Regions from separate parts of the Homo sapiens genome. Here region 2 is linked to region 1. Evidence: fine-mapped expression QTL. Tissue or cell type: whole blood. Region 1 holds a variant in brackets; the other region holds the start of a gene. All regions are shown on one strand. Distances are between the middles of the regions.

Region 1 (2,686 bases):
TGACCTACGAGAGCAGCTTTGGATACGGAGAAGAGCAAACTGGTTTAAGAAACGTCATCACCTGGGTCAAGAAAAGGACATGCAGTGGGTTGGGTAGGGAGGAAAATAGATGTAAATAAAGTTATTAGTTGAAAAAGAAAAGCAAGATCGAGAGAGAAATTAATTCTATTGCCATCTATTCATGAGAATCACAAGGCTGAATCAAAAGCCTTCCTGCAAACCTAGACTCACGCTGGTTCAGTTCAGAGACTCTATCAGAAAGATGAGGAGCTCATGAGTCATCCATCAATGTGATCTTGTGATTTTTCTTGTGACCACAAGACAAAGGAAGAGAAGAGTACTTTGGAGTCATTATGATGAAAATTCAGTTGAATACACTGGAAAGTCAAAACGAGAGGAGAAGGAGGAACCGAAAATCTGATTCAGTCTTGACCACCAAGTAGAATTGGGACAGAAACAATTAAGTAGGCACAGATCCAATTTGGATTATAAAAAGCTGGTTCATCAGGAAGGCCACTATAAAACCAGAAGCAAACGAAGAGTCAATTAAGTACAAAAGTTTTTACTATGACTATGCAGTGAGGTCCAAACTGTACTAAATTTGAAGTTCCCTGCCAAAGAGAAATGTAAGCTTCCCTGGTGGTATAAGTCAGAATTTCATGACATCAGCCAGATAACCACAAAAGAATATATCTTTTAGTGCTAGATGCTTCTAAGCCTTTCTCCACCCAACTAACCAACATTCACTTACTGATTTACTTATTTCTTTAACAAACACACTCCATTTCATAGCCACATTCTTTCAAAGCTGACAGGTTGAGATATATCTAAAACACAAAATCTCCAACATACATTTTCTTCTTCAATGTTGTGAGATGTATTTTTCTAAAACACTGTTCTGCACATACTACCATTCCAATATTAAAAACAAGTTAGTTATCCACTGCCTTTTTTGTACAAATGAAATTCATAAATTTTAATTTGGTTACAAAAAAATTTTTCATCAAAATTTTTGCTTATTTGTTTATATAAAAATGGAGACAGGGTCTCACTATGTTGCCCAGGCTGGCCTCAAACTCCTAAGCTCAAGTGATCTTCCCACCTTGACCTCCCAAAGTGATAGGATTACAGGCATGCGATACCAAGCCTGGTATAATTTAAATTTTTAATTAAAAATTGTTAATTTGTCTACAAAATAAATATATACTCATCATCAAAAACTTTCAAAGAAGAAGATTAAAATCACCATAATTCCAACACCCAGACACAATCACAATCACTTCTGTAAGTTAGGATATACTGACAGCCTATGTGACAGGGAAAAAACTAAGTTGTAAGAATTTTTTAAAAACCTCCTATTCCCCATTACAGTAGATTTTATTACTCAAAATATTTGCTGCCCCACCCTGGGGAAGATAATACTTCCCCA[C/T]TTCATTGCATCAGCCTTAGAGATGTGGTTTGAGGTGTCCCTTCTTGTGGGAGGATTACATATTCTCATCTCCTTGACCTCAAGAGTGGCCATGAGACTTGCTTTGACCAATGCAATGATAACAGAAGTGATGTGTGCCACTTCGAAGCAGAAGCTCTGATTCATCATATGGTTCTACTATGTTCGTTCTCTCTTCCATGAAACCAGCAATATCCCAAATACAGACTGCTGGTCCCAGGATGGAAAACTTAGAGCAAAGCTACCGGTAGCCCACAATGTGAGCAAGAACTGAACTTTAGTCATTGTAAGCCACTGAGGGTTTTGGAGTTGCTTGTTACCACAGCATAACTTAGCCGACACTGACTGATACCACCTACCTCCAAAATGTCATCTGAGTTTTCTTTATGTCTGAAGAGAGCCTTTATGCATTGAAATAAATACTCCCTTTAATTTCAACTTATATTTTATATATTTAAATTATATGTTTTAAAACTTAATTTTGAAGACTTTAAACTTGTGTTAATTTATAAATCAGTTTTGTTAATATTTTATTATCTACTTTTATTTGGTTTTGATGAATGCCCAACTGGCTTGTAAATTTGATAAGGTACTCCCAAATATTTATCAAACTTTCAGAATTAAGTTTTAGACATTTCAAACTACAATCTAATTTTAATTGATTTCTCAAGGAAAAAAACAACAAAGCAGACTCACATTTCTATAGGCAAAATCTTAATAAACACTGAAAACATACTGAACTTAAAAAGTTTAACCTTACAAATTTAATAAATTATAAATTTAAAGATTTAACAATTTAAACATTTGAACATTATTTCAAACTTAGTTATCAACATCTTATAAATTTTTACTAATATTTTGAGTCTAATGAATCAGTCTCTTTACTTACCTTAAAAAGCAGAAAAATATACACAAAATACTATAATGGTTACAAAACTTATTTCTAGATAAAATTTATGACTAGACATAACTTAGCTTGTCTTCCAAGGGTCTTTGAAAGTATGTTTGTTTTCTGGCAATAAGAAGATATTTCCAGACTCATCTTGATATTTCCTGCCGTAAAACATGCAATGAATTTTTCTCCAGGGAGCCCAGTGCCCTCAGGGTCTTCTGGCTGGAATGCAGATTAGATGGATTGGCAAAGCAGCTGCTGGGGCCACAAGGGGAAACCAGAAATCCACAGTAATCTTTGACCTGACGTCCTTGAGCTGCTGAACCAACATCCCAGGTTTTTAAGTC
Region 2 (2,686 bases), 130 kb after region 1:
TTGTTCTCAAATACCTGGTAAGGTGGTGACCATTCTCATTCTCTTTCTCTCTCTGCCTGACACAGGGAAAAAAAATCATTTCGTCTCAGTCGTCAAAAGCCTCAATTTCCTCAACTCTGAAAAGGCCAGCTTTAATGTATGCCAAGCACAGTATTAGACCTCAAAAACCAAGACAGCTCCACGTGGCCACTCTAAACAGGACAGATTATCTGCCAGTATAATCGCCGGTTACAGAAACCCACAGTTTAACCACTCCATCACTTACAGCTGGCCTCGATTGTGGAAAGGCTGAGTGTCAGCAAGAACACCCCGAACCAGGATGCTCCCTAGAGTCTGATTCGTTCGTGAAAACACTCCATTAAAACTCTGTACCGAAACGCTGATAATCCACATGTAAAGGGAGAAAAGAGCTCCACATCCAAGAGACTCACCTACTTCGTTTTTTCTAACTCTGCAGGAAGGAGTGAAACCAGCATTACAGGGCTAAGACGTACTAATTCTACACTGATGCAGTAACTGGTAGGAGACATAATGTTTTAAGACATCATAGGTTTAAATAGGCGAGAGTTAAAAAACAGGTTCGAACAAGTTTATTTGCAAAGAGAGGCAGGAAGGTTCCAGCCCTACCCAGGCAGTCGTGCTAGTACCGAGCCAGGGTTGGGTCGGGAAATTCAGGAAGCAGGGCTGAGTTTTCCCTTCGCCCAGACCTGCGCCCGGTAGTTTGGAAGTCAGGCTTCGAGACATTCTCAAAGGTACAGAGCCCACGCTCGACTACGAGATGCCAAGCGCAACCTGCCTGGGTTGTTTGACCCGAGTTTTATTCAGGGCATAGCAAAGGAGACGGTGCCTAAACCCACTTTTCTTCCTGGATTCATCCGACAAGCAGAGTGGAGAGGGCTACGGAGCTCAGCGCTATTCACCAGTGCTCGGCGCAAGAGGCGACACGCCCCTGGAGCAGTCGGGATCCTCCGCCCGAGCCCGGCACGCCCCGCTCCACGCGGAGTCCCGGAGGCCGGACGGGAAGACCCCGGGGTAGCCTCTCGGGCTTCCCCCTGCCCCTTCCCGCCCGCCCAGGGCACAGGATTTCCCGGACGGCTGAGCGCCGCGGGGCCAGCCCGAGCGACCCACCCGGGCCCTACGTTCGGCCGCGGAGCTGGGAGCGCACCCAGGCAGGTCCTCCACGCCTGGACTCCTGGCCCGGTTCTCCGATCTGACAACCCCCGCGCTGCGCCCGGCCTCGCTCACCTGGCCCGCACAGCACTGAGCTGACATCGCGGCGGCCAATGCCGAAGGCGCGCTCGCTGGCTCCCCGCGCCGCACGGGCCCTCCTGGCTGCCTCGCGCCTCGAGCGCTGGGCTCAGCCGCAGCTCACACTTGAACGAAGATCAGCCTCGGCGAAGCGCCTAGGCGCCGAGGCCTGGGTAAAAACAACTGCGGCCAAGCCCCGCCCCGCCGCCGGCCCCGCCTCGCCCGCCCCCAGCCCCGCCCCGTGCCCGCCCCTTCCCGGGCGCCCGGCGGCGGAGCAGGCTCGACCCGGGCTCGCACTTCCGCTGGCGTCAGGCGGGTGGGCTGCTGCGATCACTTCCCGGTTGGGGCGCCGAGCTCCGGAGTCGGCCGCCAGCCTTTGGGCCCCACGCTCCGGGTCTGGTGCGCGGTCTGGCCGCGCTCGGGCCCTCGCCAAATGAGAGCGCAGCGCCTCTCCGCCTTCGGATCCAGAGAAAGAGCTTGTTGCTGCCTCTAAAAGGTTGGAGCCTTAGTAAGCGGTTCCTGCCTTTCCTGCACAGACCAGACCGCCGGGTGCTGGTCTGCGCTCTGCCGCGCGCCGACTGGGACAGCCCACCCACGAGATCCTTGTTCCTGAAATCCCTTTCCTTCCCTCATCTGCCAAGAAAACTTTCAACTTTTGGGCTCTCCGCGCCTCCCAAGCTTCCTCGAATCCCTGGGCCCTTGACTGTTCTGCCCTGATGGCACTTGGTGAGAGATCCATTGAGAGCCCTTTCCGTGCCTTCCTGAATATTGATATGTTTTCCAGCCTCTCCTCCTGCGCTGGCCCAAGGACTCATTTTCCGTCCCTGCTTCCTCACTAAAAAGAGGGTGCCCAATAATTGCTTGTTCCATACAGAAGGCAGGGAGGCCGTCTCTAGGTTTTCTCCCACTCAGATCTGCTGTCCTCACAGCCACCTCCCCAAGAGGAATGAAGGTATTTCTTTTTTTTTTTTCTTTTTTTTCTCTGAGACGGAGCTTCACTCTGTCGCCCAGGCTGGAGTGCAGTGACGCGATCTCGGCTCACTGCAACCTCTGCCTCCCGAGTAGCTGGGATTACAGGCGCCTGCCACCACGCCCGGCTAATTTTTTGTATTTTTAGTAGAGACGGGGTTTCACCATCTTGGCCAGGCTGGTCTCGAACTCCTGACCTCAGGTGATCCGCCCGCCTCGGCCTCCCAAAGTGCTGGGATTACAGGCGTGAGCCACCGCGCCCTGCCGGAATGAAGATATTTCTGTTAGTGCGATTTTTGCGCCAATCCCTTTGCTCTTTCAAATAAGCATTACCGTACCCATTTTAGCGGTGAGGCAACTGAAGCCCAGAGAGGTTAAATAACTTGCCCAAAGCCTCACAGCAAAGTTGAGGAAGTAAAACTGGGCCTGGAATCCACTCGTCTGATCCCCTGGCACATGACGCAAGGCT

Evidence for each region. PIP is the estimated chance that this variant, and not a neighbour inherited with it, causes the effect.
Region 2: SERINC5 starts here. The variant in region 1 is fine-mapped to the expression of SERINC5 in whole blood (TOPMed, PIP above 0.99). The same link has a PIP of 0.9 or more in monocytes.

What each region holds. Positions count from the first base shown.
Region 1 is chr5:80,125,741-80,128,426 of GRCh38, forward strand. It overlaps a transcript of SERINC5 not described here. Among named protein-coding and RNA genes, the nearest start is that of THBS4-AS1, 43 kb to the left of the region's middle. The variant C/T (reference allele first, on the strand shown) is at 1,430.
Region 2 is chr5:80,254,651-80,257,336 of GRCh38, forward strand. SERINC5 (serine incorporator 5) reads right to left here and starts at 1,398. Exons shown (of 12, transcript NM_001174072.3): 1 at 1,246-1,398. The coding sequence starts at 1,272. RefSeq lists silencers at 881-1,160, 1,271-1,710 and enhancers at 1,564-2,497, 2,498-2,686.